Regions from separate parts of the Homo sapiens genome. Here all the other regions are linked to region 1. Evidence: fine-mapped expression QTL. A gene starts in region 1. Each other region holds a variant in brackets. All regions are shown on one strand. Distances are between the middles of the regions.

Evidence for each region. PIP is the estimated chance that this variant, and not a neighbour inherited with it, causes the effect. A credible set is the group of variants that fine-mapping cannot tell apart.
Region 2: its variant is the best candidate, but not a certain one, in a credible set for the expression of EHD3 in lung (TOPMed, PIP 0.71).
Region 3: its variant is the best candidate, but not a certain one, in a credible set for the expression of EHD3 in esophagus mucosa (GTEx, PIP 0.54).

The regions. Positions count from the first base shown.
Region 1 is chr2:31,231,667-31,235,906 of GRCh38, reverse strand. It overlaps EHD3 (EH domain containing 3), which reads right to left and starts at 1,755. Exons shown (of 6, transcript NM_014600.3): 1 at 1,059-1,755. The coding sequence starts at 1,285. It also overlaps a transcript of CAPN14 not described here.
Region 2 is chr2:31,263,315-31,267,554 of GRCh38, reverse strand. It overlaps EHD3 (EH domain containing 3), which reads right to left. Exons shown (of 6, transcript NM_014600.3): 6 at 1-1,378. The coding sequence ends at 851. LOC124905983 (a long non-coding RNA gene) reads left to right here and starts at 1,615. Exons shown (of 4, transcript XR_007086270.1): 1 at 1,615-4,187. The variant T/C (reference allele first, on the strand shown) is at 2,289.
Region 3 is chr2:31,281,988-31,286,227 of GRCh38, reverse strand. No RefSeq gene overlaps it. Among named protein-coding and RNA genes, the nearest start is that of EHD3, 50 kb to the right of the region's middle. The variant A/G (reference allele first, on the strand shown) is at 2,631.

The DNA.
Region 1 (4,240 bases):
GGCCACAGCATTCTCAACAATTTGGAATGGCTATAAAAGGGGCCAAGAAAATGGCTGGCCTTGAAGTTGGGAAGATTGAGGACTGGAGTGAAGCCTGTTCTCTAAAGATAAGAAGGGCCTCTGGTGGACTTCTCTGAATGCAGGGTGAACAAATTGACTTCTTGAGCCTCCCTCCAGCCCAAGGATTCTGTAATTGAAGGGAATGGATGACTCATTCTCAGAGTTACAGGCGTTTAGCCAAGCATCTCCTCACATGCATCTAGGACTTAACATCCCAGGTCTGCTGCCCACTCTTTAGATGGCTCTGCACAATTCATTTAACTTCTCTGCGCCTCGGTTATCTCACCTGCAAACTCAGCAACTGGATGAGACAATGCCAATATCCCTTCCATCTCTAAGCGTCTTTAATATTATTATTAAGCCATTAAGATCAAATAAGAGAAAGGGGAAAAAAAAAGCATTCTGCTTCTGGACTCAGCTTCTGTTGAGTCTCCAAGATATATACACAGGAGCTCTGCTTTAGAGAAGGAAATGATAAAAGGAGGACAAGTAGCATCCCCAGGCCACCTCCGTTCCCAGGCCCGCACCCATCAGAACTCAGCTGCAACTGTGAGGCCCCCATGTGAGTGCCAAGCCCCTTGAAAAACAAGGGAAGAGGTTTTGCCCGTGAATGATGTGTTGCTAAAAAGTGAAGACGTAAGACATCCCCACCAACATAAGGCGCTCCAGAGACCAGGAGCTCTTCCATTGTGCCTCCTGGGCCTCGGTTTCATCATCCATAAGATGGGGAGACTGGGAATGGCTTTACACTTGAATACTTCAGGTTGACCACCACAGCCAAGGGCCAAGTAGAGTGGACAGGTATTGGGTAGGATGGGAAGGGGGACCAGCAAAAATTGTGGGGTAAGATTTTGACGCCTGCACAAACACAGATCTCTTCAGAGCCCTCAACTGAAGGCTTCCCATTGGTCCCCTGTCTGGGATGGAGCACCAGGAGTGACCGGAGGGACTAGGCGCTGGGCTCCGGGGTGGGCTGCCAGGACCCTGGGCCGGCTCACCTGATGAAGGTGGTCTTCCCAGTGGAGTACTGGCCCACCAGCAGAACCATGGGCTTGTTGTCGAAGTCGGCATCCTCCAGGGCGGGCGAGTGGAACTCGTGGAAGCGGTAATGCTCTTCCAAGGGCAGCAGCTTGCTCTTGTAGAGTTTCTTGAGCCCCTCACTCACCGTCTGGAAAACCTCGGGGTCCTTCCTCCGGCGGTCGTCCGTACCCAGCCAGCTGAACATCGCGGCCGCCGCTCGCCCCCGGCACGCAGCCCCAGGGGAAGACTCCTCCTCAGGGGAAGATGTCCCGTAGGACCGGTCCGCCGGGCTCCGAGCCGCGCCGCCGCCTCACCCAAGCGCGGGGCTCAGCCGCACCATGGCCCGGGCACGCGGCTAGGAGGGCCGGGAGCGCACTCTCCCTGCTCCTGGGACCAAGCCCAGCCGCTGCTGCATCCAGCAGCCCAGGCCGGAGGGAGGATAAATAATCTGGGCTTGAGGAGGAGGGGTGAAATCTTGGCAATTAAAGTTGAACCTGCAAGGAAACTGCCAGATGCCGGGGTCCCAAGCCGGGGTCCCCGATCGGCCCCCAGCCCTCGCCTGCTCTGCCCTGCGTGCAGCAAGGGATGCTTCGGCTCCGCTCCTGCCGGACCGAGGCGGCTCAGGGGAGACGGCGACGCTGCCCAGCCCGCGGACAGCTCTGCATCCGCAGCAGCATCCTGCAGCCCCAGGCGGTGGTTTAAATGCCAGCTGGGCAGGAAGCCGGCGCGCAGAGGAAGTCCCCTAGTACTGGCAAGGCAGGGCCGGCCCCACGGTTGCGGCGACGGGAAGCCGCGCAGGGCGCCGCCATGTTTGTGGGCAGGCGCTCAGCTCTAGACCTGCGGCCGCGCGGGGAGAGGGATGCTGACCCAGTCCAGTGGGAGAGTGCCGGTGTCTCAGTCTCCGCCTCTGGGGCTTCGATTTGGGAACAGCGCCCTCTCAGGGACGGCTGCGAGGACAGAGTTGACCTATTCATCACACTCCCTGCTTTGAATCGCCTCTCCTTCAGTTGCTGAGGTCAATTCCCTAGGAAAACAGGTACTCTAGTATTGGGGGATTTTTTTTTTTTTTGGCATAGAAAGGGGATCCACTATCAGGTTACACAAAATAACCAAAACTGTCACTACCCAAACTTTTAGCTAGGCTTAGGGTGAAGTCAAAATCGTTCCCATTTACTTATTCATTCATTCCAGCAAAACAAAACAAGCCAAGAAGCAAAATCCCTGCAAGTATTGGGAATTTATTATGGGGCAGTTACAATTTTGGTGACTGTGGATACAGAGATGAGTGCTGAACAGACTCTCCCTTCCAGGAACTCCAGTGAAGGCAGGCTTTAAAGAGGAGGCATGAGCAGAGGGTCATGGGAATACAGGGAGGAGTCACTCCTTTTGTGTGGCTAATTTGAGGAAGGCTTCATGGAAAGCATGACTGTAAGCTGGATCCTAAATGATGAATTGACATCCATTGTTCTAGGAGCGTAAGGAGTATTTGCAAAGGCTTGAGGAACTTGGTGTGTCCAAGGCAGAGTAAACAGTTTGGCATAGCTGGAGTGTAGGGTTTAGGAAGGTGAAAGAGAGTGAGGGAGGCCAAGCATGAAAGGCTTTGCCAGAGATGGGGAACCAATAGCAATGCTATTACTAATCATTGTTACATTAACAAAATGCTCAGCATGTGCAGGGGCCTGGGCTAAGTTCTCAGTGAACATTGCTTTATTTAACCTTCATGGCAGATCATATTATCTCCAGCATCATACTAAGGAGAGTGAGTGGGAACACTGTCCAGGTGTAGGCAAAAGCAGTGCATCGTGTGTAGAGAATTTAAACCCAATAATAAACTTGCTGAAAGTTGATGTGCTTTGTATTGGCACCATTCTAAACAGTGTAGTGATAAAACACTCCTCCCTGCCCAGGCTAATGACTCCCACTACCCTCCCTTCCACAGATGAAGAAGGAGTAGGCTATGGACCAGGCAGGAACTGGAATGCCAAGAGCAGTGTTGGAGGGGCAAAAGAGGTTGGGGGTTGATATGGTTTTGCTTTGTGTCCCCGCATAAATCTCATCTCTAATTGTAATCCCCATAATCCCCATGCGTTTAGGGAGAGAGCTGGTGGGAGGAGATTGGATCATAGGGACAGTTTCATTCATGCTGTTCTCATGATAGTGAGTGAGTTCTCGTGAGAGCTGATGGTTTTATAAGGGGCTCTTCCCACTTGGTTCCTCATACTTCTCTCTCCTGCCGCCTTATGAAGGACGTGTTTGCTTCCCTTTATGCCATGACTGTAAGTTTCCTGAGGCCTCTCTAGGCATGCAGAACTGTGAGTTAATTAAACCTTTTTCCTTTATAAATTACCCAGTCTTAGGTATTTCTTCACAGCAGTGTGAAAACAGACGAATACAGAGGCCAAGAGACCATTTAGGAAACTATTCCAAAACTTAGGAGACAGCTGCAATGGGATTGGAGAAGAGGTCAGACTCAAAAGATTTTTTTCATGGAATAGAATTGTCAGATCTTGGTATGTGATAAAAAAAAGAGGACATAAGGGTGAGGCACAGTCTAGGATGATTTTGAATTTTCTACCATAGGGGATAAGATCATTGGAGAAGCTCTTCCACTAATTAGGGGAGGCAGAGAGAGAGCTGATTTAGCAGACAGAGATAATGTGTTCAATCTAAAACGTGTTGCGTTTGAAGTGCCTGCAGGAGCTTCAAGAGGAGTGTGGTGAAGCTGCAGGGATTTCAGGGGAGGGGGGATTATCAGAGGCCAGTGCTGAATAGAATCTCCTTAGTTACATCTCAGATCTCCCGACTCCCTCCTTGAACCCCAAAACTGATCATCTCTTGTTGAGAATTCACTCAGATTAATATTTCACCCTTGGTGTTTAGCTACTACCAACATACGAACCTAAGGAGTAATATTAAAGATATTTAACAACTCACAAGGCATGAGAATCAAACACCCGGAACAGACACTGGCCTTCCTAGTGGAGCAAGGCTTGCGGCCCCGTGCCACGCCTGGTGTTAATACAGTGGCGTCTGGACCTTGGAGAGATCTGAGCCTGTCCCCGGAGAGAGGTCAGTATGGCCAGCGTGACAGGAAAGAAATCAAGGGGCCCCATTATGGAAGTATTTCAAGAATTTTGTAATCAGTACGGCCATGCCATTG
Region 2 (4,240 bases), 32 kb before region 1:
CACATAGAATAATGTATATAAAGTGCCTAACACAGCTCCTGGTACGCAGGAGGGGCTGGGTAAATGTGAGTCAAGTATGAACATCTAAACATCATAGGCCAGGTGGAAAGAACATCTAACAAAATCTATGAACTAAAACCACCTTGACTGGTTTTCAATAGACTACAGGACAATTTCCTCACTCTTATCAATTTTTTTCTCTTCTCTCTCCCGCTCTGGGATTCTTTAAAATGAAATACTGGCAGAGTTCAAAGCAAGGTTTGCCGAAGAAGACAGAGGCTTAGATTAGGAAAGAACAGAGCTCCTGGGCCAATGTCTCTAGAAGACGCTTCCTTTCTCACCTCTCCTCCCTGCAGCTGCCCGCCTGCCCTCAGATCTCCTAGCTCTTGAATGGATTTCTTATTAGGAAGCCAAAGCAGATAGGGGAAGCACAGAAAAAGAAGTGAATTGTCTACTAAATGAAAAGTCTTTTCCATTTGCTCAGAGCCCGGGTGTGGAAGCACTGGGGAATCTGGAGGTGGGTTGGCCATCTGTGCTGGCAAGTGAATTGCCTCAGGTCTGGTATCTGGGGAGTGGCCGAGGAGAGGGGAAGAGCGATAGAGACTTAGGCTTAGACTCTGGGGCCTGGGAGTGCTCTTGTCCTTCTAATCCCGAGAACTTGGAGGTGTGCCCAAACAAGTATCAGCTGCAAACATGGGCGTCATGGTCCTCTCTCACCTACAGAGCAATGTCAAGATATGCATATGTGTGTGTGCATGTTTGTGTGTGTGTGTGTGTGTGTGTGTGTGTGTGTAGTCACCGCTCCCATCTCCTCCTCTAACACTGCCCGTCTGAATGTCCCCCCACCCCATCACTCGGCAACTTTCCTCTTGGACGGGGGCAGGAGGTGGGCAGGCAGCTCGTTGGGCAGCTCGTGCCCCTCCAGCTTGACTTTGATGAGGTGGTTGGCCAGTGCAAACTCGTCGTCGTCCAGCATGCCATCCTTGTCAATGTCGGCCAGCTTCCAGATCTTGCCCAGCACACTGTTGGGCAGCTTGGAGCGCACCATCTCCTTCTTGGCATTAGCGCCTGTGATCTTGCCATCCACCGGTGACAGGGTGTAGAAGATCTCGTCGTACATGGGCTTGTCCCTGGCCACCACCCACTCAGCATCATCGATACCTTCTCCAGCCCCCTCCCCATAGCCATGCCCAAAGGGGCCGTGCAGGGTGCCCTCGAACGCTCCGCCCTTCACCATCTGGATGGGCCGCTGTGACTCCTCCTGGCGCACTAGCACCATGAGCTGGGCAATGTCATGGGCCAGCATGTCGTCCACTACCTCCAGCAGCTTGCTCTTCAGCGGCTGGAACTTGCTAAAGTCCTGGGCCTGCAGCTGGTCCTGGGAAGAGGAGGAGAGAGGATGAAGATAGGATACGATGAAAGGAGAGCCCTCCATTTATCACGTGCCTCCTATGAGCACCAGAATGTTCACAGCTGATCCCTTTCTACAATGAAAGACCTGTGACCTAGAGGCTCAGCTGATGGACATCACGTGGTAATCGAAGGTATGAGAGAGGAGGGGAATAAAGGCCCACTGGGCTGATGATGGGATTTTTCAGTAGGGGGTAGAAGGGTTGTAGGGGCTGGGGAAGAAAGGGAAATTTAACAAGTATTGGCATGATCTATTTATTTCAATCCCCTTCAATGTCATTCCAGAGAGGAAATCATTACATTTCTCTTTAAGTCAGTTTTGGCTATTGAATCATGTCTCTTGAATGCTGTACCTCTGAGACTGGGTCATGTGGGCCTCTACTTTAATAAGGGTTATACTGTACTTGAAAATCACCGCAAGTGCCTTCACTACATTACCTCGTTCACTCCCCCAGCGCCCTTCTGAGGTAGGAAAATCACATTCTATCCCCACTTAGTGAAAACAAAAACAAAAACCAAACAGGGCACAGGGTACTAAAACCAAATCATAACAGAAGCCAAAGGTCATCCCCAAATTATGGTTCTTAATCAGGATGCTCATCGGAGTCACCTGAGGAGAGTTTTCAAAATACAGTCATGTGCTGCATTACAATGTTTCAGTCAATGAGGGACCACACGTATGACGAGGGTCCCAGAAGACAATAAGGGAGCTGGGAAATTCCTGTTGCCTGGTGACATTGTAGCTACTGTACACAACACAACGCATTATGTGTTTGTGGTGATGCTGGTGTAAACAAACCTACTGTGCTGCCAGTGGTATAAAAATCTAGCACACACATTTCCATAGAGTACATAATACCGGATAATGATAACGGCTA[T/C]GTTACTGGTTTATGTAAATATTTACTATACTGTACTTTTTATTGTTATTTTAGGGTGTATTCTTTCTACTTATTTAAAAAAAATGTTAACAGTAAAACAACCTCAGGCAGGCCCTTCAGGAGGAATTCCAGAAGAAGGCATTGTTATTACAGGAGATGACACCTCCATGTGTATTACTATCTCTCAAGACCTTCCAGTGGGACAAGATGTGGAGGTGAAGACAGCGAAACTGATGATGCTGACCCTGTGTAGGCCTAGACTAGCATGGGTGTTTGCATCTTAGTTTTTAGCACACACAAAAATAAAAAAGTAAAAAATAAATTTTTTTAAATAGAAAAAACTTATAGAATAAGGATATAAAGAAAATATTTGTGTATAGATATACAATGTACATTTTAAGCTAATTGTTACAACAAGAGTCAAAAACTTTGTAGGCTAGGCGCGGTGGCTCATGCCTGTAATCCCAGCACTTTGGGAGGCTGAGGCAGGCGGATCACGAGGTCAAGAGATCGAGACCATCCTGGCCAACATGGTGAAAACCCCGTCTCTACTAAAATTACAAAAAAAATTTAGCTGGGCATGGTGGCACATGCCTGTGGTCCCAGCTACTCGGGAGGCTGAGGAGAATCGCTTGAACCCAGAGTTGGAGGTTGCAGTGAGCCGAGATCGCGCCACTGCACTCTAGCCTAGCAACAGAGTGAGACTCTGTATCAAAAAAAAAAAAAAAAAAAAGTCTGTAAAGTAGAAATGTTAATTTATTATTGAAGAAAGAAAATGTTTCTAAAAATAAATATAGTGTAGCCTAAGTGTACAGTGTTTCTAAAGAAGTCTACAGCAGTGTACAGTGATGTCCTAGGCCTTCACACTCACTCACCACTCACTCACTGGCCCACCCAAAGCAACTTCCAGTTCTGCAAGCTCCATTCATGGTAAGTGCCCTGTACAAGTATACCACTGTTTATCTTTCATACTGTATTTTTACTGTACCATTTCTATGTTTAGATACACAAATACATGGTGTTACAATTGCCTACAGCCTTCAGTACAGTCACATGCTAGGTCTGTGGCCTAGAAGCAATAGGTCATCATACCATATAGTCCAGGTGTGTGGTAGGCCCTACCATGCAGGTTTGTGTATATACATTCTATGGTGTTCACACACAATGACAAAATCACCTAACAATGCATTACTGAGGATGTGTCCCTGTCATTAGCAAGGCATGACTGTCCCCGAGGGTTTGACACAGCAGGCACAGGCAGGCAGGTGGGCATGCCGATTTTGAAAGAGCTCCTCTTGCCTTCACATGACAACCCACACCACACCATAAAAGAAATATCTTCCACTTTGCAGGTCTCTGCAATTTTGAAAGTTTTCGAGTCTAGAACACCAACTTCTCCATGGCCTGTAGAGGGTGATAGGGTGACAGCTTTCTGCTCCTACCCTGGCTCTGGCCACCTAACTCTCCAGAAGCTGGGAAGAGGCCAGTACACAGGGTGAAGCACAGCTAGTCTGCTGCAGAAAAATGCAAAAAACACCCACAGCTTTCTAGGGCAAGTGTTAGCCTGGGTACTTCTCACCTCCTTCCTAGGGTGAGGCTGAGCCAGGAAGGCCTTAGGGCTGAAGGACTCCTGGAGGAGGAGCAGACAGGGCCCTATCTCCCACCCCTCAGAGCATCACGTCCCAAGGTCCTCCCACCTCTCATTCCTCCTGTCCCTCCCAGCCTGCTCACATCTAGGTATGTTTGGTGGGCTCCCATGCAGGGGTCCCAGTATCAACTAGGGGGCATGGTGGGTGCTCCCATTACCCTACGATGGACACCCACACAGGACAGCTGTTTACATTGTGGATTCAGCATATTGAACTGCAGAACAGAATATTGAACTGGCAAACAAATGAGGTGAGAATCTTTGTTTTGAAAGAATTCCTCACATTAAAACTGGGGTCTTAGGG
Region 3 (4,240 bases), 50 kb before region 1:
TTCTAGGATGCTTACCATGCCCCTTCACCCTGGCCTTTCCTTCCTATTCAAGAGGTTTGTCACTGGCGATGGTGTTTTCTCCATTGTCAAGCCTCCTCTATGGCTGGTGCTTCATACCTGGTACCCCGACACTTTGCCTCTCTTCATGCCTGCTGACTGAGTCACTTCAAATTTCCACCACCATGGGCTCTTGAACTTGTGACTTCTTGGCCTGATTTTTATACCCACATTGTTAGCCCTGACTGATATTAAGGTTCTCCACAGGTCTGACTGACCTGAGCAATCCCATATTCATTCATTCATTTATTCATCCATCCAAGAAATATTTATGTTAACTCATTGTTAACTTGCAGGGCCTCACTCTGCTGCCCAGGCTGGAGTGCAATGGCATGACCACAGCATACTGTAACCTCAGACTTCTGGGCTCAAACAATCCTCTCACTTCATCCTCCCGTGTAGCTGGAAATGCAGGTGTGCACCACCATGCCTGGCTATTTTTAAAAATTTCATAGAGACGGGATCTTGCTATGTTGTCCAGGCTAGTCTCAAACTCTTGGCCTCAAGCTGTCCTCCCACCTTGGCCTCCCAAAGTGCTAGTTGTGAGCCACTGCACCCCACCTCATTGTTACTTTTGGTGCTGCTAACTTACTTATAGAATGGACATAAGAATTCTTAGAATGGGCCTGAGAATTGACAATCTGTTTTTATTTATCCCTTCTAATTTGATAAGTAGGCTAACACTTATATATACCTGTTATATACCTGTCATAGTGTTACCAGTGGGTCTTTGTTCTTAGAGCTCCCAAGATGGCGGCAAGCCTTTTGCTCTCTGACCTGGGGTTCTTGGCCTCACGGATTCCAAGGAATGGAACCTTGGCCCATGCGGTGAGTATTACAGCTCTATTAGAAGCCGTGGGTCAGGGAAGAGAACCGTGGAACCCAGTGACTAGTGTTCAGCTTGATTAGGACAAACCCGGGCACTTAGCCATGCAGGAACAATAGCGAACCTCTAGCCCGATAGGGAACGGCAATGGATGGGCGCCTTGCTGATCAGAAGCGCAGCGTACACCCTGCTGGATCCGGAGGGGTGGAAGTTAGCGGCGGGTCTGCGACAGCGGCAATCAGCAGTGGTGGACGGTGAGCAAAAGCTCAGCTTGAGCCAGAACAAACACGGACCAGAAGAGTGTGCAGCTGCAAGATTTAATAGAGTGAAAACAGAGCTCCCATACAACGGGAGGGGACCCAAAGGGGGTTGCCACCGCTGGTTCGAATGCCTGGGTTTATATCCTGATCATTGTCCCTCCCCCTGTGCTCTCAGGTGATAGATGGTTGACTATTTCTTTACCTCCTGCTTTTAGCCTAATGGGTATTTTAGTGAGCTCTCTTTACTACCTGACTGGTCAGGTGTGAGCTGAGTAACAAGCCCCGTATTTAAAGGTGGGTGCAGTCCCCTTCCCCAGCTAGGCTTAGGAATTCTTAGTCGGCCTAGGAAATCCAGCTAGTCCTGTCTCTCAATAGTCCATTTGGGTTGCTATAACAAAATACCATCGACTAGATGGCTTATAAATAACATAAATTTATTTCTCACATTTCTGGAGACTGGGTAGTCCAAGAAGAAGGCACTGGCATATTCAGTGCCTGGTGAAGGCCCATTTCCTGGTTGATAGTCCTCACATGGTGGAAGGGGCCAGGCAGCTCTCTGGGCCTCTGTTATAAGAACACTAATCCCATTAGTGAGGGCTCCACCCTCATGGCCTAATCACCTCCCAAAGGCCCCACCTCCTAATACCATCACATTGGTGATTAGGTTTCAACATATGAATTCTGGGGGGACACAAACATTCAGATCACAGCAATGCCTGTTTTACAGATGAGGGGATGGAGACTCAGAGTTCTCAAGTTACCTACTCAGAGTCACAGGGCTAATAGCAGCAGCGCCAGGAGCCATCCACTGGTCCTCTGATTTTATCTTTTCAAGATGCCTTTTCGTTTCTAACTCCTGACTGAAAGGGGAGAGGCATTTCCAGGTTTGGAGAATTTCCTAAACTCAGAAAAGATGTTCTAAAAAGAAATTGTGTGCCTCAGCACTTCTCCTGAGAAATCACTGTTACAAAAAGTGGGTCCAGGATGGGGGGAGGCTGGGTAGGATGAGGCATCAAAGGGATTTGAGAATGTGAGCTCTACTGGGAAGTGGCTGGGTGGGAGGGGATGTTATAAATAAAGTTTTGATGCCACAAAAGAAATTGTACTTGAATACAAAATTCTCTTTTTAATTCTCAGCAAGGCAAGTTACTTCTATAGAAGGATGCACCCTTACAGATGGAGCAATGGTGAGTGCACACTTGGACAAGGGAGGGGAAGGGGTTCTTATCCCTGACACACGTGGCCCCTGCTGCTGTGTCGTTCCCCTACTGGTTAGGGTTAGACTGCACAGGCTAAAATAATTCTGATTGGCTAATTTAAAGAGAGTGACAGGGTGAGTGGTTTGGCAGGAAAAATGGTTATGACAGAGCAGGTAATCGGAATGAGTCAGGTGGAGCAGGTAATCAGAATGAGTCAGGTGGAGCAGGTAATCGGAATGAGTCAGGGTGGAGCAGGTAATCGGAATGAGTCAGGTGGAGCAGGTAATC[A/G]GAATGAGTCAGGGTGGAGCAGGTAATCGAAAAAGGTTGCTTTATGAGGAAGTTAAGTTTAAAAGTAGAAGGCAAAGAATTGAACATACTGACATATTGATTCTTTGAAAAGAAACTTAGAACTCATATCTAACAGGGAGAAAGATGGGGCACACAATGGCACATACTGCAGACCGGGCTGCTTCCTCCCAAGGCCCTGGGGAGCCCTCTTGAGGACTTGAGGTTTTAGAAAAGGGCATTGTCAGGAGCTGGCAGCCACCTGTGAATTGGTGGTAATGAATGTACTAACACTGTTACCTGTTAGGAAGAGTAAGAAACACAGTCAGAAGATGCTTGGGAGGACCTTGGAGGAGAGGCAAGTTCTGGGAATTTCTGTGGGTAGGCTTTAGGGGATTTTGTAGCATTTGGGAAAGTGTTTTGAGCCAAAGCAGAAGACCAGCCTGTGGCCTTGGCTTTACAAAGTATTTGTCAGGGCTGAGGTCTAACAGAGTGATGGCCTGACCTAAGCTGGAGGACAGACAGCTGAAGGTCAGTGATCAGAAGGCTCTACACAGCAGAGAGAGACCAAGAGTTTAATCTTGCACCAAGCTAATTGAGCTACTGAGAGCGTGTTTCTGTGATTTATAAACCTATCTGTCCTTTGTGTGCCAAGATATTACTTCTCAGTGTCATAAAAATTGGCATATAAAAATATCTGTCTTCCTTTCCCAGGTTAACCTTCTCCAGGATCCTGTAATTATCTCACTCCATCCTCTCCCTGTCCCCTTTGTGTTTTGTAGTGATGACTCACTCATTGCAGTTTGCCTGGGACTTTACTGGTCTAAGTGTTACAGGAAAGGGTTTCCCATCCAGAACCCAAGAGAGGGTTCTTGGATCTCATGCAAGAAAGAACTCAGGGCAAGTCTTCAGTGCAAAGTGAAAGCGAGTTTATTAAGAAAGTAAAGGAATAAAAGAATGGCTACTCCATAGACAGAGCAGGCCCTAGGGCTGCTGGTTGCTCATTTTTACAGTTATTTTTTGATAATATGCTAAACAACGGGTGAATTATTCATGCTTCCCATTTTTAGAACATATAGGGCAACTTACTGATGTTGCCATGGCATTTGTAAACTGTCATGATACTGGTGGGAGTGTAGCAGTGAAGACAACCAGAGGTCACTCTCGTCGCCATCTTGGTTTTGGTGGGTTTTGACTGGCTCCTTTATTGCAAGCTGTTTTATCAGCAAGGTCTTTATGACCTGTATTTTGTGCTGACCTCCTATCTCATCCTGTGACTTAGAATGCCTTAACTGTCTGGGAATGTAGCCCAGTAGGTTTCAGCCTGATTTTACCCAGCTCCTATTTAACATGGAGTTGCTCTGGTTCACACGCCTCTGACATAAGCACTGAAAGTCCCATGACCCAGGAAACCCCCAATATGGGCATTAGGACAGTTGGTCACCGTAAAGGTCTTTTCCTCCACCGACTCCTTCTTAACCTGTGAACATTCCCATGTCACCTCTTTGTTAACCAATTCTGCTTCCCTTGAGCTCCTATTAATTCTTTTTCATCTATGGACTCCTAAACTTCTTCCAAGTGTAGTCCATGCTCTCACTATGTCCCTCACCTTC